7 linked regions of the Homo sapiens genome follow. The protein of the gene in region 1 interacts with the protein of each later gene in a pairwise test. Each region holds a gene or a part of one and is shown in the gene's direction. Other genes may lie near its edges. The genes, in order: SLC10A1, STX7, GDE1, SACM1L, SLC38A7, MFSD6 and SCAMP4.

What was found.
Region 2: the proteins of SLC10A1 (region 1) and STX7 interact in binary tests that used the Homo sapiens proteins (3 or more experiments, as listed by UniProt).
Region 3: the proteins of SLC10A1 (region 1) and GDE1 interact in binary tests that used the Homo sapiens proteins (3 or more experiments, as listed by UniProt).
Region 4: the proteins of SLC10A1 (region 1) and SACM1L interact in binary tests that used the Homo sapiens proteins (3 or more experiments, as listed by UniProt).
Region 5: the proteins of SLC10A1 (region 1) and SLC38A7 interact in binary tests that used the Homo sapiens proteins (3 or more experiments, as listed by UniProt).
Region 6: the proteins of SLC10A1 (region 1) and MFSD6 interact in binary tests that used the Homo sapiens proteins (3 or more experiments, as listed by UniProt).
Region 7: the proteins of SLC10A1 (region 1) and SCAMP4 interact in binary tests that used the Homo sapiens proteins (3 or more experiments, as listed by UniProt).

The regions. Positions count from the first base shown.
Region 1 is NC_000014.9:69,783,742-69,787,241, reverse strand, and holds part of SLC10A1 (hepatic sodium/bile acid cotransporter), read left to right. Parts: intron 1-934; coding exon 935-1,145; intron 1,146-3,500. UniProt on the Homo sapiens protein: As a major transporter of conjugated bile salts from plasma into the hepatocyte, it plays a key role in the enterohepatic circulation of bile salts necessary for the solubilization and absorption of dietary fat and fat-soluble vitamins.
Region 2 is NC_000006.12:132,447,117-132,450,616, reverse strand, and holds part of STX7 (syntaxin-7), read left to right. Parts: 3' UTR 1-3,500. UniProt on the Homo sapiens protein: May be involved in protein trafficking from the plasma membrane to the early endosome (EE) as well as in homotypic fusion of endocytic organelles. Mediates the endocytic trafficking from early endosomes to late endosomes and lysosomes.
Region 3 is NC_000016.10:19,515,599-19,519,098, reverse strand, and holds part of GDE1 (glycerophosphodiester phosphodiesterase 1), read left to right. Parts: intron 1-1,909; coding exon 1,910-2,085; intron 2,086-3,500. UniProt on the Homo sapiens protein: Hydrolyzes the phosphodiester bond of glycerophosphodiesters such as glycerophosphoinositol (GroPIns) and glycerophosphoethanolamine (GroPEth), to yield a glycerol phosphate and an alcohol.
Region 4 is NC_000003.12:45,734,396-45,737,895, forward strand, and holds part of SACM1L (phosphatidylinositol-3-phosphatase SAC1), read left to right. Parts: intron 1-839; coding exon 840-978; intron 979-3,187; coding exon 3,188-3,257; intron 3,258-3,376; coding exon 3,377-3,449; intron 3,450-3,500.
Region 5 is NC_000016.10:58,671,271-58,674,770, reverse strand, and holds part of SLC38A7 (sodium-coupled neutral amino acid transporter 7), read left to right. Parts: intron 1-2,527; coding exon 2,528-2,675; intron 2,676-3,500. UniProt on the Homo sapiens protein: Symporter that selectively cotransports sodium ions and amino acids, such as L-glutamine and L-asparagine from the lysosome into the cytoplasm and may participates in mTORC1 activation. The transport activity requires an acidic lysosomal lumen.
Region 6 is NC_000002.12:190,495,355-190,498,854, forward strand, and holds part of MFSD6 (major facilitator superfamily domain-containing protein 6), read left to right. Parts: intron 1-2,084; coding exon 2,085-2,365; intron 2,366-3,500.
Region 7 is NC_000019.10:1,908,399-1,911,898, forward strand, and holds part of SCAMP4 (secretory carrier-associated membrane protein 4), read left to right. Parts: intron 1-3,491; exon of another isoform or gene 3,492-3,500. UniProt on the Homo sapiens protein: Probably involved in membrane protein trafficking.

The DNA.
Region 1 (3,500 bases):
GATACATATTAGAGCTGGAAGGACATATTATTCAGGCTCTGAGTGTCATAATTTATTTTAAATAATATCAAGAGGAACCAGAAAGTAAAGAACATGAGAACACCAGAGTTGGGGACTGGAATACTATCCAAGATGCAAAGCAAATCTGACCAGGTTATCTTGTCACTTACTCAACATGGGTATCTATTACTGCCTTCTCTACTACCCCACCATTATGGCCCTTCAATTATTCTGTTTCTTACTGCTTCACTATTTCTTTTACAGTCCTTTTAATCATGGTATCTGTTTATTGATTTTTCTAGTAGGGTTTTTGACTTCTGCCTGAGCATCACTCCCATGCCACCCATCCCCAAAGACCAAGTGTCCTGTCACTGTGTCTCACACTCAGACTCCCCACGAGGTAAAATGTGCTGATATAGCTAATTGTTATTGTCTCCGTTGGACAAAGTCACTACAAGAAGCCATTCCCTAGGCTCTAAACCAGACATTTAGTAACTGTGGGTCAGGTGCCATTCCATGGTCCAATGGGCTAATGACCAGAGTAATGGAATCACACAGTTGGCTTTCTACAAAATGGGCTTGGCATGGGGGAGGTGCTCAATGCGAAAAGGGTTCCATTACAGAGAAGGAGATCAGAATGGCTCCTTCCACAATGAAGCACACAGGGATTGAAGCAGTTGAACCACCCTAAGTTCAAATGCTGCCTTGGCCACTTACTACCTTGTGCGACTTTGAGCAGGACACAACTCTTCTAGTCCCCAGCTTCCTTGTCAGCGAAAAGAAGATAGTATGCTTACTGCCTAATGTTATGGGGAAAAGGAACTGAAGCCACATATGTCAAGCACTTAGCACAGTGGCACTTAGCAGGCACTCAACAAAATAGTCTGTATTTATGGGCTCTCTCTCTCTCCCCTCTTCCCATGTCTCCCACCAGCATTGTGATGACCACCTGCTCCACCTTCTGTGCCCTTGGCATGATGCCTCTCCTCCTGTACATCTACTCCAGGGGGATCTATGATGGGGACCTGAAGGACAAGGTGCCCTATAAAGGCATCGTGATATCACTGGTCCTGGTTCTCATTCCTTGCACCATAGGGATCGTCCTCAAATCCAAACGGCCACAATACATGCGCTATGTCATCAAGGTAAGAACCTGGGAGGCTTGACAAATTAGGGCAAAAGAGTAAAAACACCATATACAACTATAAGATATAATCATTATATTAATAATAAACATACATATGCTCCTACTAGATGCTAAGTTTTATGCTATGCACTCTAAGGATTCACTGTCACCAGAGTTTGATATTTGCAGAAAGTGAAGTAACACATGAGGCTGGCGTGGTGGCTCACGCTTATAATCCCAACACTTTGGGAAGTTGAGGCGGGTGGATCACTTGAGGTCAGAAGTTTGAGACCAGCCTGACCAACATGACGAAACCCCGTCTCCATTAAAAATACAAAAAAAAAAAAAAAATTAGCCGGGCATGGTAGCGAGTGCCTGCAATCCCAGCTACTCAGGAGGCTGAGGCAGCAGAATCGCTTGAACCAGGGAGGGCAGGGGTTGCAGTGAGCCGAGATCGCGCCACTGCACTCCCGCCTGGGCCACAGAGCAAGACTCCATCTCTAAAACGAAAAAAAAAAAAAAAAGAAAAGAAAGAAAATGAAGTAACACACGAGAGAAACAAGATCCAATTCCAGTGTACACGCAAGTATTTGCAGAAGGCAAGGAGATGGGAACAGTGAGGGCTGGAGTGGTCAAAGAGCCTTATTAAAAAGGAAGGGCTTGAGGCATTTAGGTAAACCTGGGGAGAAGCCTGAATAGAGTTCAGCAGGCACTAAGGGCAAATTTGGCTGATGTGGCAAGAAGCTAGAGGAGACAGGTAGTGTACCCATTCCCAGCATTTCAAGAGAGGGATGGGGTGGGAAGTGGAGTGAATTAAGGCCACAAAGGTTTTGAGAAGCACTGTGGTCACAGACAGGGCATCATGCCACTGCTTTGTGTGCAGAACTCCTAGAGTGCAGCTATGGTCTCTCCACCAATATTTTCAACCTTGGAGTTTGGTCCCTGCCAGCCTCCCCCTTGGCTCACTATTCATCCCCCAGGGCCAGGAGGTCATCCTGGTCCTCAGGAAGGACTTGACCTCCTGACCTCCTGTACCATCTCTGCCCCTGGATCAATGCCTCTGGCCTGGTCTGCAAGGCGTGCTGCTGAGAACCCCAAAGTTTGGCAGCAGCTTTGGGCCTGGAACAAAGAAGTCAAGAGTCCAGTTTTCAGGGGGGTTTTATTTTCACACTACCATTGTCTCAAGAGTAGTTTTTGCCCTTGTCCTGTCCCAGTGCCATGGCCACAGCTCCCCTTCCCGCCTGCTGGAGGACATGGAGGAATCATCCCTCCTCCTTTCTGTGGCCAGTCACCCCACCTCAGCCCTGGATTGCAATCATTCTCTCTACCCTTGTACTCAAGAGACCTCCTTTTATTGATTATGCCCCTGGCCCAGCAGCCTCCCCTCTCTCTCATTTCTAAAATATCTCTGTATTGGTTCTTCACAATCAGCTTTGATACGAACTCACATATCTTCTATCTTCAAAAAACAAAACAAAAAGTGTCTCTCACTGGGATTTTTTGTGGAATCCACCTCCCATTCCACCTAATATCTCCCTTTGCTCTCCTTCCTAGCCAGGTTTTAGGAGTAGTCCCCCTCACTCCTCTCTCTCTCTGTCAATCGCTTCCTCTCAAACACCTTCCATTTCCCCCATGCCACCGCCAGAGCTCTCTCATGAGTGACCAGGCCCTCAGCAATTCGTTTCCATTATTTGAATCCCTCTCTTCTCTCCTTGGTCTCCCATCCACCCAGCATCTTGATGACCACCTGCTCCACTTTCTTTGCCAAATCCAATGGACATTTCTCAATCCTTCCTTGACCTTCTAGCAGCATTGGACATAATTGACCACTGCCTCCTCAAAAGCCTTCTCTGTCAGCTTTAGTGACTCTAAGCTCTGCTGCTTTCCTCCTACCTCTCATGACCTTCAGACTCCCTTATGAGTTCCTCTGGTCAAAGGCACTTCTCTGCATTCAGACCAAGCTTTCTGCCTTTCTCACCAGACCTCTCCCAGCACAGGATCTGGTCCCTCTCAGGTCTGCAATTACCATCTGCAAACCGAGACTTCCAGAACAGCATCATCAGATGTCAACTCTATCCTCACTCCAGAATCCATTTATTATCTACCAGGTCTTTCTATCTGAATATACCTCAGACATTTAAAACTCAATATATGTTAAAGTCATCTCCTCCCCATGTGGTTATCTCAGTCGGTGGCACTGTGTGTGTGCCCAGTTGCCCCAACCAGAAACTGGAAGTCATTCTCAATGTTCCCTTCTCCCTCACCACTCACACCCATCTAATCAATGACTGTCGATTCCACCTTCTGTTGCTGGAATCCATTCATTCCTCTCTATCCTTACCTCTCACTAGACAACTCAAATGGCCTTCTCATC
Region 2 (3,500 bases), on another chromosome or scaffold:
CAATTTTAAAATTTCTGGCCCTTTACCGAAAATGTTGGTTGACCCCTGGAGTATAAACCTATACTATAGAAGAGAGTATCAATTTTTTTTTTTTTGAGAGGATCAATTTAAACAAAAGTTGGTCTCTTTAAATAAATAAAGTACACATAACTTGGTGAAACCGATTTGGAAAAAAACAGAAGACATAAAAAATTTAGGAATGAAAGTACAGATAAATAACCAAACATAGATTTTAAAATAATAAGACACTATAAACAACTTTATGCCAATATATCACAAAACAGAAAATGAATAATTTATATGAAAAATGCAAATTACCAAAATCAACTACGAAGTAGATGATTTCTGCTTCCTGCCATATGGTTGACTAGGTATACTCAAGGATCCTCCTGCTAAAATACAGTTAGTTCTTGGATAAAATACAACACACATAATATTAGTTCATTTCCTGGCTCATTAGAAAGAAAGATAATCACTAAAGGCTATTACCAATGAGAGTGGGCTAAAATTAAAGTAGTTGAGAAACAGGAAAACTGTGCCTCTGAGACTTAAGCCATGGACTCCAGGCAAAGTAAAGAAAGTGAACCTAAGATTCCTTCATAAAACCAGGAATGCTTTAAAGCATTAAAGTAGTCCTAAGTCAGTGGACTCTGGTGGTTACTCTAAGAAGTGGATGAAAATCCCCTCCGAAGGAAAGCCTCCCTAATTAATGCTTCTAGATTAATCAAACATGCAAGGAAACACACCATTTGCATTGAGAAACAGTAGATTTAGATATTCAAGGAATTCAGGTATTGCAATTAGCAGAAGTAGAATAACAGTTATATGTTTAAATAATGTATGAATTAAAACGAACATGAAATGAGAGATGTGTTAAAAGGCAGATATTAAAAAGAACCAAAGACAACTTAGGTATGAAATTTAATTATTGAAATATATAACATAATGAATGGTTTAAGAGCAGATTCACCACAACTAAAGGAATTGTTGACTATCAAGTTTTAACTGAGGAAACAACATATTGCAGCAAAAACAGGTAAAGGGATAGAAAATAAGAATTAGAGATTATGAGACCTGAAGGATAGAATGGGAAGGTTTAATATGTGCTGATTGGAGTCTAAGAAGTAAAAAATAGAAAAAAATTGAGGTAATTGCTGACAAATTTCCAGAGCTAAGAAAAGCCTGGGACCTGGTATGGTGGCTTATGCCTGTAATCACAGCATTTTGGGAGGCCAAAGCAGAAGGATCACTTGAAGCCAGGAGTTTGAGATCAACCTGGGAAATGAAGCAAGAGCCCCCACTCCATCTCTACAAAAAAAATTAAGAATTAGCCAGATGTGGTGACATGAACCAGTAGTCCCAGCTACTTGGGAGGCTCAAGTGGGAGGATCACTTGAGCCCAAGAGTTTAAGACCAGCCTGAGCAACATGGTGAAACTCCATCTGTACAAAAAATACAAAAATTAGCCAGGCATGGTGGCACACACCTGTGGTCCCAGCTACTCAAGAGGCTGAGGAGGGAGGATCACACGAGCCCAGGAGTTCAAGGCTGCAGTGAGCTATGATGGTGCCACTGTACCCTGTCTAAAAAAAAAAAAAGTGGATCCACATATACAAGAAGCAAAATGTATATCAACCAGGAAAAGGAAGCCAATGTATATTCATTATACTCAAACTTCAGAACAATAAAGGCAAAGATATCTTAAAAGCAGCCAGAATAACTTATCCACTTTTAAAGGAATAACGAATTGACAGACCTTTTTTTTTTTTTTTTTTTTTTGAGACAGAGTCTTGCTCTGTCACCCATGATGGAGTGCAGTGGTGTGATTTCTGCTCACTGCAACCTCCATTTCCCGGGTTCAATTGATTCTCCTGCCTCAGCCTCCCGAGTAGCTGGGAGTACAGGTGTGCGCCACCACAACCTGGCTAATTTTTTTGTATTTTTAGTAAAGACGTGATTTTGCCATGTTGGCCAGGCTGTTCTCGAACTCCTGACTTCAGGTGATCTACCTGCCTTGGCCTCCCAAAATGCTGGGATTAGAGGCATGAGCCACTGCACCTGGCCAACAGTAGACTTTTCAGTGCCAAAACTGGAAGGCAAAAGACAGTGGAATAACATCATTAAGGTACTGAGAGAATAACTCAATAGAATGAGTGCCCAGTGAAATTATCTTTCAAAATCAAGGGTATATTAAAAACACTTTTTTCTCAAAATGAGAATTTACAAACAAGGGACTTTCACTTAAGAATAAAGATGAATTTTAGAGTACAGCAAAATGACTAGGAGGAAAGTCTGAGATGCAAGAAGGTATGGTGAGCTAAAAAATCAGTAATCATGGGAAATGTAAATAAATACTGTCTATATTAAGAAGTATTTACTCTGTGGAGTAAAAAAGAGCGTAATTAAAATACTAGCAACATTTTACATAACTCAGGAAATGTATATGTGGGGAAAGTGTCCGGGAGCACTTAGAAGTTAGTGTGAGTGCTCCAAGATCCTGATACTCTTTAGGATGGAAGTTAAGATAATGAATGACTTTAGATGTTGTTAATCTAAGTACTTAACAGAAAATTTTCAGATAACCTTTAAAGAATAGCAATACAATATAACTTTCAAACCAGTAGAGAGGAAACATTCTGAAATAAGGGAAAAACACTTTAGAAATCCCAACTTTGATAGACCACAAAAATGCAAGAAGGAAGAAAAAGCATAGAAAAAGCAAAGAAATGGCATAGTATATAATAAATGGTTACAATAAATATAAATTGCCTATCTCACCAGATTAATAAAAAAAAAAGTCTACCTTGTTCAATATATACAGTTTACAAAAGACAGTACAAGGACAGAGAAAGACAAAAAGTAGAATTAGGGAAAATAAAACAAGCAAATATACCTGGTTAGGATAGCTGTATCAGTATTAGCCTTACAAATATTAAAGTGAAAAGCATTAATAAGGATAAGGAGACTCTCAAAAATAATAAAAATTTCAACTGAAGTAGGTATAACAGTTCTAAACAAAGTTATTAAAGTAAAAATGTAGAGGGCAAAACGGAAAAAAAAACTATTATGTTGTATTTGAAGTCACTCAATTTTTAGCTCGAGCAGCAAAAAAGTAAATAGAACAACATGGTAACCAAAGTTGATTCAATTAATACATAAAGGATCATGTTCCCCCAATTTAGAGCATGTGCATATTTCTTAAGCATGTATAAAAGATTTAGAAGGAAAATGATAAAGGAATGTTTTGGGGACCTCTGATAGGGAAAGATTTCTTAGAAAATCTGCAAAAGATATTAACCATAATCTACATAAAGTCAACTGTTTTATTTCAAGCCTCTCTGGAAATAGTTTTGTTGACTGATAAGAAACGCTCTATGTCAGTCAGCTAATCAATGTCTAGTGAGTCTAACTCTTTCCACTACACAGTAAGTTCCATCTTAGGGTGTTTTACTTAAAAGCCTGGTGTCAAATGTTACACGCACAAAAACTTATTAGTATCT
Region 3 (3,500 bases), on another chromosome or scaffold:
TTGCTATTTGTGTCTGGAGGAGGGTGGGGTGCAGTCTTGGGGACCAAGCCCTCAACCTATGATCTGACACTATCTCCAGGTAGATAGTGTCAAAATTGAGTTGGAGGATACCCAGCTGGTGTCCACTACTTATTGGTGGGGAAAAACCCCCACATTTTTGGTCACAGACGTCGGGGTTGATTGTTGTGAGAGCAGAGGGAAAATGTGATGTGTTTTTCCAAAATAGTCGTACATCTGTATCACATGGGAAAAGGAAAAGATTTAAATAAAGCAGAAAAATCTCCACCCATAAAGGACGTTATTGATAAATTTGACTATATTACCTTTAAAGATGTGTTTAAAAGGACATAATAAATAACAATGGCTAACATTTATTGAAATCTTAACTATTCACTAGCACAGTGCTCTGTGTTGTTTATGGGTACTTAAATAAAAACCGGTAAGGGAGTGACATGAGAATGATATACACCAACTTTAAGATGGTAATTACCTCTGGAGAGGAAAGGAGGAGAATGAAAGGGAGAATTTCAGCTGTATCTGTAGTGTTGATAGTAAAACTGAAGCGGATAAGAGTGCAACTTCTACTGCATCCTAGCTTGTGCAGCCCTGGGCAAGTTTCCTACTCTTTCTTTGTCTCAGTTTTCTTATCTGTTAAATGAGAATATTAATAGTACCTGCTTCAGGGTTGTGAGGATCAAATAAGTTAATACATTTAAAGCACTTAGAAGAGTGCCTGGCAAGTAGAAAAGGCTCAATAAATAATAGTTTTTGTTTTTGTTTTTGTTTTAGTACAGAAAGAGACTGAGGAAATTAGGTCAAAATATTCACATATGTTAAATCTTTTTTACTGTAGATGTTTGCAATAGACCATGACTTAAAATATTTTTTAAAAAATTAAAAATCTTGATCATAGCTGGGCACAGTGGCTCACACCTGTAATCCCAGCACTTTGGGAGACTGAGGCAGGAGGATTGCTTGATCTCAGGAGTTCGAGACCAGCCTGGACAACATGGTGAAACCCCATCTCTACAAAAAATACAAAAATTAGCTGGGCATGGTGGCACGTGCCAGTAGTCCCGGCTACTTGGGAGACTGAGGTGGGAGGATGGCTTGAACCCAGGAGGCGGAGGTTTTAGTGAGCCGAGATCATGCCACTGCACTCTAGCCTGAACAACAGAGCCAGATCCTGTCTCCAAAAAAAAAAAAAAAGAAAGAAATCTTCATCGTAATGAGCATTTCACATCTTTATTGTGATGAGGAAGCCAAGGAAGCAAACATTAAATAGTGTGTCTCCAGAGGAGCATGGCTCGTGTAATTTAAGGTTCAAATTCTCTTTTTAGATAAATTCTAATCTACCTCATCAAGCTTAACAACTTATGGGCCAACAGCCAGTGCTGCTTACATAAACAAAATGTGATATGTCCTAGAAGCAGGCGTGGTGTCTTTGTGGTAGAGGGTGGAATTAAACCAACAAAAACCTGACTCATTTATGCCAAAGTAGTGAAATATCTGACTAATCAACAACCGTAGGGTGATCATCAGAACTGCTGTACCAACAAATAGTGTAGGTAAACAGTGGAATTGTCTAAGTATTCATAAGCCATTGATGACCCATATAGTTAAACATCCAGAGAAAACATAAGTTCCTGAAGTCTCCTAGTCTTCCACTGTGAAAGTAAGAAGAGTGGGAAAATTAAAGTTTTTAAGGAATCCATCAGTTAGGAATTGAAGTAAGGTTATATACACAGAAAACAGAAACAGATCAGGATTGCTGTTTGGTGGGGGAAGTGGAAGGAAAATGAATCAAAAAGGACAGCTGTCTTAGGAGCCCTGCTGGTCTTTTGGGTGGTTAGATGCAAAATAATGTTTGTGGCCATTTGACAGTAATATTCTTGATGTTTTTGTTAAGGCAGCTAAGAATGGAGCAACAGGCGTGGAGTTGGACATTGAGTTTACTTCTGACGGGATTCCTGTCTTAATGCACGATAACACAGTAGATAGGACGACTGATGGGACTGGGCGATTGTGTGATTTGACATTTGAACAAATTAGGAAGCTGAATCCTGCAGCAAACCACAGACTCAGGTAAGTAGTTTATTGTCACTTAAACAGATCTTTTAGCTTTTATTGGAAATGACAGACACTGGTGCCTTCTAATTACATCTGCCCCAGGAGAGTTGTCTTGTTTTGTTTTGAACTGTACGTAGGTCTTGTAAGTAATGAGCAAGTGCCAGGAACAACAGAAATTTGGCATTATGTTTTTAATCTTTCCCACTGAGGCTAAATTTGGCTTCAGAATTATTGTCAAGATAATACTGTCTAGTCATAGAATCATGAGGCTGAAAGTCATTGCTTGGCAATCTTCTTGCCTTCAGGTGTACCAAGAAGCAAATTATACATTCATTAAAAGCTTCAAGTAACATTATAATATCACATTTTAACTTAACCCATTTAATTCTTCTGATCCTCATAACAAACTTCTGAGGAATCACAGAATTGTAGGAATAGAGAGTATCCTAGAAATCATCTAGAATAGCACTTTGCAGTAGAACTTTCTGCAATGATGGAAATATTTTATATCTGCACTGTGTAATATGGTAGGTACTTGTGGCTATTGAGCACTTGATATGTGGCTAGTGACACGAGGAAGTGAATTTTTAATTTAAATGTAAATTTAAACTGAAATAGCCATGTGTGGCTACCATATAGGATACTACAGATCTAGATCAATCTTGCCTTTAGATATAATCCCAGAAAAGTTAAATTATTTACTCAAGGGCAAATAACTAGTTCATAAAGAAGCCAAAACTAGAATCTATCCCAAGTTTTAGTCCAAATCATGCTGTTTTTAGCTGCCCCCAATGTCTTTCAACCCTGTAAGAGCAAAAGTTCTTTCAGTGTCTAATTTAATTCCTTCCTGGTAGAGTGTAAACGTAGCTTCCAAAGTATATACACTAGAGCTAATCTTACAAGATGTTCTGCAAAAACAGGGTTCAAGTAAGATCAAACAGTGTATTCTGAATACTTCTGTTGTGGATAAACAGTCCACATCAGCTGATTCTTACTTGTAACTTAGCTTTTCTCAAACTTACATGATCACAGAACCTACATCCTCTTCCCCACTTACAGCGGTAAACACCCTTGGAATTGGTATGCTGAGTAATATACTGTACTTTGGAATGTGGTTATTTAAATCCCTCTCTGCTTGTCATCTTTGCAGTACTGAAAAGGGTGTGCTCACTGGTTATTCATGTAATATCAATTATCCAGACAATGATCGATTCTCTTGGAAAATTAAGTATTTGACCCAACAGTTAAGTTATACTTTTTCCTAAAAGATGATCCAGACCTGTTTTCCTAGGATCTGAAAAACATTAGTCTGCCGAAGGAAGTCATACTGTAGGCAGGAAAGAATATTGGTAACACTTGAGAATTATGAGTCCAAGTTGCTAGAATTGTTCTTGAGTGTCATCAGATACTGTATTGCTCTGCTTATGCAA
Region 4 (3,500 bases), on another chromosome or scaffold:
GAGGGAGATTCCATCTCAAAAAAAAAAGAAAAAGAAAAAAAATATTTTTAAGTATTTAAAAAAAATTTTTTTTAATTTAGATACAGGATATCGCTCTGTCACCCAGGCTGGAGTGCAGTGGTGTGATCATAGTTCACTGCAACCTTTAACCCTTGAGCTCAAGTGATCCTCCCACTTTAGCCTTCTGACTACAGGTAGGCACCACCATGCCTGGCTACGTTTTTGTTCTTTTAGAGGCAGGGACTCGTTATGTTGTCCAGGCTGGTCTCGAACTTCTGAGCTCAAGTAATCCTTCCACCTCAGCCTCCCAAGTAGCTGGGATTACAGGCACGCACCACCACGCCCAGCTAAAAGTATTTTTAATGCAAAATATTCAATCCTTGCCTCAGAGATTCTGATTCAGTTGATCTCAAGGCCAGGAATCTTTTTTCACAAGCAACCCAGAGGATTCTAAAGATAGTATATGAATCATAAAGCCCTGACATCTAGGGATATAGTTGGAATAATTATGTTAGAGGAAACCCTCATCTGGCTTTGGGAAACATGATTGATTTGCACAGCAACCTTTTTAATACTCTTAACTTTACTTTTTCACATCTTTGGGGTGAGATGATCTCTAATCTTCAGCCATTTTTTGGATGGAGGGCTGTCTTGCCTCAGCCATTTAGACTTCTTTTTGGTCTAGGATAATCACATATGCCTGACCACACATTCCTGTCTGACCTTTTAATTTACAGTTTTTAATAATGTCACTGAAATGAGACCCATGTTATAAGAGTTAAGTCCTTAGTAAATCTGACCTACTTTGGTATGAGAGTGTTTATACAAATATGTTTTAGTTATTTTCTAGTGGACTCTGCTGGCCAGGTGGTGGCAAACCAGGAAGGCGTGTTCCGAAGCAATTGCATGGATTGTCTAGATAGAACCAATGTGATCCAGAGTTTGTTAGCTCGTCGTTCACTTCAGGCCCAACTTCAGGTGCGAATGCTTTTTTTTTTTTTAATTGAAAAACAACACAGCAAAAAATTAAACATCTTTAAAACCCAGTAACAAAAAATATTCACATTGCCCACACCCTAACCCAGCTCTTTTTATTTTTGTGTCTTGCCCATGGATGTCACATTTTCCATAACTAGGGTCAGTCTGTGTATGCACAGTTTTCACTTTTGCCATTTTCCCTTAGCATTTATGTAATCACAGTTTCTGGTGGTTGTATTGTTGTGCCGTAATTTACTAAGCCATTCAGATTGCTACATTTTTGGTTTATAAATAACACCGTAGAGAATATATCTGTATATGTTATTATTAACTTGAATTATTTCCTTCATGTTAATTCCTAGAAGTGGAATTACTGGGTTAAAGAGAATAAATATATTATTTTCCAAGAGCGTCATACCAGTTTACACTGACACCAATAATGAATCAGTAAATCCATTTCATTGAACTCTTCCCAGCATTTGATATTTTAATTTTTTTTTTGTTTTTCCTTGAGAAAGTGTCTGGCTCTGTTGCCCAGGCTGGAGTGCAGTGGTGCAGTCTCGGCTTGCTGCAACCTCTGCCTCCTGGGCTCAAGCCATCCTACTAACTCAGCCTCCCACAAAGCTGGGGCTACAGGCATGTGCCACCACACCTGGCTAATTTTTGTATTTTTTTTTGTAGAGACAGGATTTCACCATGTTGCCCAGGTTGGTCTCAAACCCCTGGGCTCAAGCAGTCTACCTGCCTCAGCTCCCAAAGTGCTGGGATTACAGGCTTGAGCCACTGTGTCTAGCCTCTTTTTTTTCTATTTCGTTAATACAAAAGTAGCACCTCAAGATTGTTTCTATTTATCTCTCTCTTATTACTAGCAAGGAATATTGACTCCAAAGTAAAAAGTTTCTGACACAGCTTTGCTTTACCACTAGACTATGCTGTTGAGAAAAATGGTTTTTTTCTTCTGTGTATATTTGGAATGAAAAAGATGTAGAGCCCCAATTTTTAAATCACATTGGCATTTGTTGTGAGGGGCAGACAAAATGCATACCACATGGTTTCCTGTTCAGGTAATTAGTAAGCATTCAGCTTTATTTCTGACAATTGTATGATACCGAGAAAGAAATTATGGAGGTAAAATACCCCCTTCAGAATGAATTGTTCTTGAATCTTAAAGTCACACCTGCCAGAGGAGTGCTGTCCCTGTTGGAGTAGTCTGTAGTTTGTATTGTGCTATGTCCTCGTCTGTTGGAAGGTCTTCTAAGTGTAGTTTTTAATAGAAACAATATTAGGAATGGTTTGGTTCCATGGCTGATTAACCAAAACTTACTTGACTAGGCTCTGCAATCCATATTTTACAATTTTACATGCTATATATAGTATTATGAAACCTAACCAACCTGCAGAGAGTGGGGGCAGGAGCCTCTCCAGCAGCTTTGCCTACTAGTGTAGGGGCTGTCTACTTGTGCCTCTCCAAGTCTGCCAGTGAAGGCAGAGTTCTTACCCAGCTAAAGGTCACCAAGGTGGCTCCTGTGCTGTGTCTGAGGGTGGGAATGACTCCTTCTGAGGTGGAGATGAGGTGTCATCTGAGGTAAGCAATGAAGATGGTGGTTCTCAGAAGTGATGGTCTGAGACAAGGCAGGGACTTGTCATCTGTGGTTGGTGGTCTCCAAAGGGGAGTCTATAGAGGGGATTCAGGGGGCCCAGCAACCCTGGGATATTCTATGTCTGTGTGTGTGCACTTTTGGGGAGGTAGATTAGGTGGCACTCATCAGATTCTTAAAGGTCCCTGGGACAGAGGGTAAGGCTGGGGTGACTCAGGGGTGAAGAAGTTGAGGGATGATGCATGTGAGGGGGTCTCAAGGGGTAGAGGCAGTAGAAGACTGGGGGTAAGAGGGAGGGAGGAAGTAGCGGCTGGAATCCTATAGCAGCTTTCACTCTCTCTTCTGACCCTCTCCCTGAGTATAGTCCTGCTGCTATCCCTCAAGGGAGTGCGGGGGCTGCAAGGCAAAGGTGCCCTCAGGAGAGGCTTTGCAGTCTGCCCTGGGCAGGAGAGGGCTGCTGTGAGCTGGGGCCCCCTATAGACAACAGACATTTCTGGCCTGCATCCAGCAACCAGGCACCATGAGATAAAATTTGGGGACTGCTTTTTCTTCCTAAACCATGTCTGCTAAAATCTATTACACATAAATCTGGGTGTGGTTTTTTATTCCAGAGACTAGGAGTTTTGCATGTGGGACAAAAGCTTGAAGAACAAGATGAATTTGAGAAGATTTACAAAAATGGTAGGTCATTTCTTTAATATAGACAAAGTTGGTCAGATTTTGAAATAAATTAATATTCTGGATTTAGAACTTTGTTTGTCATCTTAATAATTATCAGCTGTTTTTACTTTTTTCTACAGCCTGGGCTGACAACGCAAATGCTTGTGCCAAGCAATATGCGGGAACTGGTGCCTTGAAGACTGACTTTACCAGGCAAGCCATGCTTTTAAAATAGCATTCCACATCAGTAGTTCACAGTCCTGG
Region 5 (3,500 bases), on another chromosome or scaffold:
CTGAATACACAGCCAGGAACAAGAGAGGCAAACAGCCAAATCCCTATTCTCCTGGGGCTCATGTCCTGGCTGGGGAGACAGAAAATAAGCCTGTAAAAATTAATTACTATTATTATTGTTATTATTTTTATTTGTATTATTGTTTACTTAAAGACCAGTGTGATAGTACAGTTAAAAAAAAATTAGAAAGCGATGAGGCCAGTCACAGTGGCTCACACCTATAATCTCAGCTATGGGAGGCCAAGGTGGGAGGTTCTCTGGAGCCCAGGAGTTCAAGACAGGCTGGGCAACATGGTGAAACTCCATCTCTACAAAAAATTTAAAAATTAGCCAGGTTATGGTAACATGCACCTGTGGACCCAGCTACTTGGGAGGCTGAGGTGGGAGGATCGCTTGAGCCTATGAGATCAAGGCTGTAGAGACCCATGATCATGCCATTACACTCCAAACTGGGCAACAGAGTGAGACCCTGTCTCTAAAAAAGAGAGAAATGAGTGTTAGGGGACAGGCCCAGTGGATCATGCCTGTAATCCCAACACTTTGAAAAGCTGAGATGGGAGAACCGCTTGAGGCCAGGAGTTCAAGACCAGCCTCGGCAACATAGTGAGACTCATCTCTACAAAAATTAAAGAATTAGCTGGGCGTCCGCCAGGCATGGTGGCTCACGCCTGTAATCCCAGGACTTTGAGAGGCCAAGGTGGGTGAATCACTTGAGGCCAGGAGTTCGAGACCAGCCTGGCCAACATGGCAAAACCCTGTCTCTATCAAAATTACAAAAATTAGCCGGGCGTGGTGGTGGTGCCTGTAATCCCAGCTACTCGGGAGGCTAAGGCATGAGAATCACTTGAACCTGGGAGGCCGAGGTTGCAGTGAGCCAAGATCGCGCCGCTGCACTCCAGCCTGGGGGAGAAAGTGAGACTCTGTCTTCAAAAAAAAAAAATTAGCCAGGCATGGTGGCATGTGCCTGTAGTCCCAGTGACTTGGGAGGCCAAGTCAGGAGGAACTTGAGTCTAAGAATTCAAGACTACAGTGGAACTATGATTGTACCACTTCACTCCAGCCTGAGTGACAGAGCAAGATCCTGTCTTTAAAAAAAAAAAAAAAAACGGCCAGGCACTGGGGCTCACGCCTGTGATCCCAGCACTTTGGGAGGCCCAGGCAGGCAGATCACATGAGGTCAGGAGTTCGAGACCAGCCCAACCAACATGGCGAAACCCCATCTTACTAAAAATAAAAAAATTAGGGCTGGGCGTGGTGGCTCACGCCTGTAATCCCAGCACTTCCCGAGGCAGGCGGATGACGAGGTCAGGAGTTCGAGACCAGCCTGGCCAACATAGTGAAACCTCATTTCTACTAAAAATACAAAAATTAGTCAGGCTTGGTGGCGGGCGCCTGTAATCCCAGCTACTCGGGAGTCTGTGGCAGGAGAATCACTTAAAACCAGAAGGCAGAGGTGGCAGTAAGCTGAAATCGCACCACTGCATTCCAGCCTGGGTGAAAGAGCAAAACTCCATCTCAAAAAAAAAAAAAAATTAGCCAGGTGTGGCGGCAGGTGACTGTAATCCCAGCTGCTTAGGAGGCTGAGGCATGAGAACCCAGGAGACCAAGATCATGCCATTGTACTCCAGCCTGGGCATGACAGAGCGCGACTCCATCTCAAAAAAAAAAAAAAAAAAAAAAAAAAAAATTAGCCGGGCATGGTGTAATCCCAGCTACTCAGGAGGCTGAGGCAGGAGAATCACTTGAACCTGGGAAGTGGAGGCTGCACTGAGCCGAGATCGTGCCACCGCGTGCCAGCCTGGGCAACAAGAGTGAAACTCCATCTCAAAAAAATAAAAAAGAAGAAGGCTGGGTGTAGTGGCTCACACTCTGGGAGGGTGAGGTAGGAGGATTACTTGAGCCCAGGAGTTCAAGACCAGACTGGGAAACGTAGCAAGACCCCATCTCTACAAGAAAATTAGCTGGGTGTGGTGGCATCTGCCTGTAGTCCTAGCTACCTGGGAGGCTCAGGTGGGAGAATCGCTTGAGCCGAGGAGGTCAAGGCTGCAGTGAGCCATGATCACACTACTGCGCTCTAGTCTGGGTAACAGGGCAAGACTCTGTCTCAAAAAAGAAAAGAAAAATAAGACAGCGTGATGTGAGAGAGTGCCTGGGGTGGGGGTCATTGTAGATGGACTGGCAGGAAGCATTCTCTGAGGAAGGACATCTAAACTGAGACCCAAATGATAAGGAGATGGCATCTGAAGGTCTGCCAGACAGAACAGTCAGTGCCAAGGCACTGAGGTGGGAATGTGCTGGGCAAGTTCAGGCTCAGAAAGCTGGGGGCTGGAGGGCTTCCAGCGATGGGGGATCTGAGAAGTCAGGGAGGGAGGCATCTGATCGGAGCCCCATCTCCCACTCTGAGCCTCCGTCTAAGTGTCCAGAGCTGCTGCTGCAGCCTCCAGGCTGATGTTGCTCCTAGGAGGAGTGGACAGTCCACCCCACTACCCTCCCAGGGTTGCCCTGACCCAGTTGTCCCTGCCCACAGGCATCTGTGGCTTCCTGACCTTTGGAGCTGCTGTGGATCCTGACGTGCTCCTGTCCTATCCCTCGGAGGACATGGCCGTGGCCGTTGCCCGAGCCTTCATCATCCTGAGCGTGCTCACCTCCTACCCTATCCTGCACTTCTGTGGGCGGTGAGCCCCCTTCCACTCCCCAGGGCCCCTCCTAGCCCCTGTGAGCGCTTCCAACATGGTCCTTTGGCCTTGTGTGGACCCCATCCTGTAGAAGGAGAAACTGAAGCCTGTAGAAAAGAGTCGGTGCCTAGGATGGGTCCCTACATATCCCAGGCCAGGTGTCAGAAGCGCCCTTTGTCCTGGGGTCACCAGAACATTCCGTGAGTCCTGTAAGAATCTCTATCCATGGCATGGCACGGTGGCTCACGTCTCTAAACCCAGCACTTTGGGAGGCTGAGGCAGAAGGATCGCTTGAGCCTGGGAGTTCAAGACCACCTGGGCAACCTAGTGAGACCCCATCTCTACACAAAATAAAATAAATAGCCAGGTGTGGTGGGATGCACCTGTGGTCCCAGCTACTCAGCCACTTGGGAGGCTGAGGCAGAAGGATGGCTGGAGCCCAGGAGTTCAAGGCTGCAGTGAGCCAAGATTGCACCACTGCACTCCAGCCTGGGTGAGAGAGCCAGACCCTGTCTCAAAAAAACAAAAAACAAAAGAATCTCTATCCAGATCCTTTCCTGAGCTTTCACATGGACACCCTCCCCTTTGGATGCCCCAGACAGTTCCTTTTAAGGAAAAAACAATATCAGTTTCCATGTGATGTAAAGCAAAGTGCTAAGCTCTCGACATTCACCGTCTCTAGTCCCTGTGGTAAACAGAGTGCTGGTGGCCCATTTTACAGAAGAGGAAACTGAGGGTCAGGAATGGGGCTTTCCCCGCAGTCTACCCAGTTAGGGGTCTGGCTCCTGTGAGCTAGAGGTGGGGAGCTGCTAGCAGCAGGGGCAC
Region 6 (3,500 bases), on another chromosome or scaffold:
ACACAAATGGAAACATATCCCATGCTCATGGATGGGTAGAATCAATATTGTGAAAATGACCATACTGCTAAAAGCAATCTACAAATTCAATGCAATTCCCATCAAATACCACCATCATTCTTCACAGAACTAGAAAAAACAATCCTAAATTTCATATGGAGCCAAAAAAGAGCCTGCATAGCCAAAGTGAGACTAAGCAAAAAGAACAAATCTGGAGGCATCACACTACCTGATTTCAAACTATACTATAAGGCCATAGTCACCAAAACAGCATGGTACTGGTATAAAAACTGGCCCATGGACCAATGAAACAGAATAGAAAACCCATAAATAAAGCCAAATACAGCCAACTGATATTTGACAAAGCAAACAGAAACATAAAGGGGGAAAGGATACTCTATTCAACAAATGGTGCTGGGATAATTGGCAAGCCACATGTAGGAGAATGAAACTGGATCCTCATTTCTCACCGTATAAAAAAATCAACTCAAGATGGATCAAGGACTTAAATCTAAGACCTGAAACTTAAAATTCTAGAAGATAACATCAGAAAAACCCTTCTAGACATTGGCTTAGGCAGAGATTTCGTGACCAAGAACCCAAAAGCAAATGCAACAAAAACAAAGATAAATAGATGGGACTTAATTAAACTAAAGAGCTTTTGCACAGCAAAAGGAACAGTCAGCAGAGTAAACAGACAACCCACAGAGTGGGAGAAAATCTTCAGTCTATATATCCGACAAAGGACTAATATCCAGAATCTATGACGAACTCAAACAAATTAGCAAGAAAAAAAAAAACACCAAAGAGTGGACTAAGGACATGCATAAACAATTCTCAAGCAAAGATACACAAATGGCCAACAAACATGAAACAATGGTCAACATCACTAGTGATCAGGGAAATGCAAATCAAAACCACAATGTGATACCACCTTACTCCCACAAGAATGGCCATTATCAAATAATCAAAAAATAATTGATGTTGGTGTGGATGTAGTGAAAAGGAAACACTTCTACACTGCTGGTAGGAATGTAAGCTGTACAAACACTATGGAAAACAGTGTGGAGATTTCTTAAGAACTAAAAGTAGAACTACCATTTGATCCAGCAATCCCACTACTGGGTATCTACCCAGAGGAAAAGAAGTCATTATATGAAAAAGATACTTGTACATGCATGTTTATAGCATCACAATTGCAAAAATGTGGAACCAGCCCAAATGCCCATCAATCAATGAGTGGATAAAGAAACTGTAGTGTGTGTATGTATGTATATGTGTGTATATATATGTATATGTGTATATGTGTGTGTATGTGTGTGTGTATATACACACACACACATATACATACATACACAATGGAATACTACTCAGCCATAAAAAGGAATGAATTAATGGCATTCACAGCAACCTGGATGGAACTGGAGACCATATTCTAAGTGAAGCAACTCAAGAATGGAAAACCAAACATCGTATATTCTCACTCATAAGTGGGAGCTAGGCTATGAGGATGCAAAGGCATAAGAATGATATGATGGACTTTGGGGACTCAGGGGAAAGGGTGGGAAAGGGGTGAGGGATACAAGACTACAAATTGGGTTCATTGTATACTGCTTGGGTGATGGTTGCACCAAAATCTCACAAATCACCATTAGAGAACTTACGTAACCAAATACCACCTGTTCCCCAAAAACCTGTGGGAATAAAACATTTTTTAAAAAATAACTATCACGTGGCTTTTCCTGTTTTGACGTCTTTTTAATCATAATCCTGTAAATGGGCCTAAGGCAACACTCATTATAACCTATGCCCCACTGATGTTCTAAGTTAAATGAAAAATATATTTCTTAAATATATATGCTAATGTCTATTAAGGCCTATAAAGAGACCCAAAGATAAACATCATGTTCATTGATTCAGTACTTACACCAAGTAATGAAGTCATTGGTAACCAGCAATTTATTAATATTATCAAGCACTCTGGAATGGGTATATGGGATTCTTGGTTTATTTATTTATTTTTACCTTTGTTCAAATATGTAGAAAATGCTGAAAAAATAGTTTAAACATTCTTTTCTCTCCAGACAAGACAATGTTGGCAGAAAGAATTCCTGTTCCCTCCAGTCCCGTTCCTATAGCAACCATCGACTTGGTACAGCAACAGACAGAAGATGTCATGCCACGCATTGAGCCCAGACTTCCACCCAAGAAAACTAAGCACCAGGAAGAACAGGAAGATGTGAACAAACCAGCCTGGGGAGTCAGCTCTTCTCCCTGGGTGACCTTTGTCTATGCACTCTACCAAATTAAAGAGATGATGCAACTCACAAGAGACAACCGTGCTTCTGAGATACAGCCTTTACAGGTACAGTTCCTTTGCTGGGCTAGCAATATTACCTGTCACTCAAGATACCTTAACTGGGCTCAGTTTTAATTACTCACTTTTCATTCAACAAGATTTATTGAAAGTCTGGTGGGGGAAATAGACATGCAAACAATTTCAGTACTCTGTGAGCACTGAGTTAAAGAGGGTGTATACAAGGTCCCATAGAGAGAATATTCTGCCTTATGGAGTTCAGGAAAACTTCAGAGGTTATGATTCTTTCACTTCTTGAAAGAAATAAAATAAATTAATCCATTCTTTCATTGTATATTTGTTTTAAATTTCAGTATTGATGGTTGTCTCTGTAATTCCAAAATTCTAGTGGGGGCATTATATTATAGGACCACAATAAATATTTGTTGAATTAATTAATCTGAGCCACTGTATGGGTCTGATAGGACACCTAACTCAGTGGAATTATGGTTATGCAGGTGGCCTCACCTGAAAAATAAGTCTAAAAGTGTGATTTTTCTTGTCCCCAGAGGAGTGATCTTTCCTGAGTAAAGTTAAAGCATGTTGATAAAAGTGTGGATAATTGTACAGGTGTATCCCGACTTTGGAAAATGAGTGTAACTTCTATAAACAATTTAGCCAAAGAAATAGGCTCAGTTCCCCCATCTCATGATAATCACTCCCTTTTATTTGATAAGTCACGTCAGCTTTGTCTGGAGTAGCTTCAGAGGACACATAAAAATAAAGGGGAAAGATTTAAAAATAAGGGTCATTTGAGTAATTCCCCTTTCAGAAAATTTGTTGAACTGTTAATTAATCTCACTTTGTAAGCTAACATAAAATCTTTGTGAAATTTTAACCAAATCTGGTTCTTTACTGATAACCATATGCATGCTAGTCCATGCATGATCCTATTTATTAATTTATCAAGATAATAAACTCACATCATTACTCTGCTCAGTCAAGAACCAGATATTGTGGTGGGAGATGCATATGGAGGATTTTAATACCTTAAAGCAAGAAGACTAAACAGGAGAAAGGATGATTTTAATATCTGCTGCTTGAGTAGCAATATTTTCATTACTTTGTGTACTCATCCTCATTTTCACAGAAGCCACATAAAATTTTTGATGTGGCGCTTTTTTTCTGGTATGTTAGGATTAAT
Region 7 (3,500 bases), on another chromosome or scaffold:
GCTGAGGCGTGGACCAGGCAGTGCATGTCGAGGAGTAGCACCCACAGCTGCGCGGCTGCGAAATGATCCAGAGACACATCCCTGTCTGCGGGAGGAGCCGTCCATACCAGCGGGGATGTGTAGTCCAGGCTGGCAGTTCAGGATCACCCGGCTGGAGTCATTTTAAGATCATCTGCGGCTTAGCCCCAGCACCATCTGAGGCAGTACTGTCTGCTAGAAATAACTGTGAGCACACAGGTAGTAAGGTTTTTAGGATTTTATTATTATTTATTTATTTGAAAAAAGGAACAGGGTCTCTCTATCTTGCCCACGTTGGTCTCAAACTCCTGTGCTTAAGTGATCCTCTCGCCTTGGTCTCCTGAGTAGCTGGGACTACATGTGCACACCACCGTGCCCAACTAATTTATACTTTTAAGCAATGTGGGCTGGGCACGGTGGCTCACACCTGTAATCCCAGCACTTTGGGAGGCTGAGGCAGGTGGATCACCTGAGGTCAGGAGTTCCAAGACCAGCCTGGCCAACATGGTGGAACCCCGTCTCTACTGAAAATACAAAAATTAGCCGGGCGTGGTGGCATGTGCCTGTATTCCCAGCTACTAGGGGGGCTGAGGCAGGAGAATCGCTTGAACCTGGGAAGTGGAGGTTGCAGTGAGCTGAGATCATGCCACTGCACTCCAGCCTGGGCAACAGAGTGAGACTCTGTCTGAAAAAAAAAAAAATGTGGGCTGGGCATGGTGGCTTACGCCTGTAATCCAACCTCAGGCCTGCGGTGCGAGTCTGTGGGGGCAGATGCAGGTGGGGGAAGGCTGGCCAGCTGAGACTGTGGTTTGGGGGTGTTCAGGTGGGGTGGATGCCAGAGATGTGGGAGCCAGAGGCGCTGTCCCCCAGGGCCCTGTGAGCAGTCCCTGCAGGCTGGCTGTCCCCACGCCTGCCTCTCTGCTGTGCTGTCTGCCCGCCTAGGGCAGGCTCCCTTCTAATGGGCGGATCCCGAGAGCTGGGGGCCCCACCAGCCCTTCCTCTCCAGTGGAGTGGCCCTACTGCCTCATGTCCACCTGTGCCAGCAGCAGGGATGGTAATGGCTCTACTATCTCCTGTCCTCACCTGTGCCAGCAGCAGGGATGGTAACGGCTTTACTGCCTCCCGTCCTCACCTGTGCCAGTGGCTGGGATGTCTTCACCTGTGCCAGCAGCAGGGATGTCCTCACCTGTGCCAGCGGCAGGGATGGTAACAGTGCTGGTGATGTCAGGCCGGGAGGTTCTCACCCGAGAGCCGCCTTGGCACACTGCCCGGCAGTCAGGGATGTTAGCAGGAGCCCCGGGAGTGATCCCAGCTCTTCCCGCAGCCCCACTCCAGCCAGGGCCTCCTCTGTGACTGAGTAAGCAGGGACACCCCAGTGGCTGCCTGCTCCACCCGACAGCCAGGGCCCACCACAGCTGCAGGAATGTGGTCAAGGGATGGGAAGTCGGGCCCACCAGGGGAGGGGCTGCGCTCCGGGGCTTACGTTTCGTGGCTTGTCTTCTGAGGTCTCTCTTTTCCTAGCCCTTGGCCGACTAGGGGGCGAGTGTTTACAGAAACCACTGGAGGTGGGTGTTCCGTGTCAGTGCCAGGCTGTGTGCTGTTCTGGGAGGGGGCCCCGTGTCCCCCACACTTGGCATGCTTGCTTTCTGTCACTGCATAGCAGACTCCGTGCATCTGTGGGCTTAATACAACACCCGCCAGCTCCCGGTTCTGTGGGTCGGGGCCTGAATGTGACATGGCTGGCTCCTCTCTGCGGGGTCTCACCGGGCTGGAACCCAGGTGTCAGCCAGGGCTGTGTTGTCATCTGGAGGCTCAACGGGGGTGGCATCTGCTTGCAACTCACGCAGGCGTTGGCGGAATTCAGCAGCTTGCGGCCGGGGGACCAAGGGTCCTGCTCAGTTCCTGGCCACATGGCCCTTCTGTCTGGAAGCCAGGCGCCGCCTGTCCCCGCTTCTGCTTCCAGGCTCTGGCTTCTGGAGATGCAGAGATCACATCAGTGGTTGCCTGGGTTGCTGTGTGTGTTGTAGGGTGGTGAGACAAGTTTTCTCTTAGGGGTGATGGAATGTTCTGGAATTTTATAGTGGTGATGGTTGCACAACTCCAAGTGTCCTAAGAGCCACTGAATAGGACACTTGATAGTTTTTGGTTTTTGAGGTGTCTTTTTTTTTTTTTTTTTTTTGAGACAGAGTCTCGCTCTGTCACCAGGCTGGAGTGCAGTGGCACGATCTCGGCTCACTGCAACCTCTGCCTCCCAGGTTCAAGCAATTCTCTTGCCTCAGCTTCCTGAGTAGCTGGGATTACAGGTGCGTGGCACCATGCCCAGCTAATTTTTGTATTTTTAGTAGAGATGGGGTTTCACCATGTTGGTCAGGCTGGTCTCGATCTCGTGGCCTCATGATCTGCCCGCCTCAGCCTCCCAAAGTGCTGGGATTACAGGCTTAAGCCACCACGCCTGGCTTTTTTGTTGTTTTTTGACAGTCTCGCGCTGTTACCAGGCTGGAGTGCAGTGGCGCGATCTCGGCTCAATGTAACCTGCGCCTCCCAGGTTCAACCTTCTGGGTTCTCCTGCAAGCCTCAGCCTCCCTAGTAGCTGGGACTACAGGTGCGTGCCACCAGGCCTGGCCAATTCTTTGTATTTTTAGTAGAGACGGGGTTTCACCGTGTTAGCCAGGATGGTCTTGATCTCCTGACCTTGTGATCCGCCTGCCTCGGCCTCCCAAAGTGCTAGGATTACAGGCGTGAGCCACCGTGCCCGGGTTTTCATTTTTTTTTTGAGATGGCATCTTGCTCTGTCAGCCAGGCTGGGGTACAGTGGCACGATTGTAGCTCACTGCAGCCTTGAATTTCCGGCCTCAAGTGCTCCTCCTGTTTCAGCTTCTCGAGTAGCTGAAACCACCGGTGTGTGCCACCACGCCCAGCTAATTTTTTGATATTTAGTAGAAATGGGGTGTTGTTATGTTGCCTAGGCTGGTCTTAAACTCCTGGGCTCAAGTGATCCCCCCACCTCGGCCTCCCATAGTGCTGGGATTACAGGCGTGAGCCGCTGGTACCTAGCCATGAATTGTGCTTTTGAAAATGACCTGTCTTGGCTGGGCGCAGTGACTCACACCTGTAATCCCACCACCAGGTTGAAGCGGGTGGATCACGTGAGGTTAGGAGTTCGAGACCAGCCTGAACGACGTGGTGAAATCCCATCTCTACTAAAAATACACAAAAATTAGTCGGGCGTGGTGGCGCATGCCTGTAATCCCAGTTACTCTGGAGGCTGAGGCATGAGAATAGCTTGAACCCGGGAGGCGGAGGTTGCAGTGAGCTGAGATCATGCCACTGTACTCCAGCCTGGGCGACAGCGAGACTCCGTCTCAGAAGTAAAAAAATAAAATAAAAAAAAAAGAAAATGATCTGTCTTCTGGTAGGTGAATTATATCTTCGTTTTTAAAAACCAATGGCTGTTTAAACTCTGTGCACACCAGGGGTTAGCA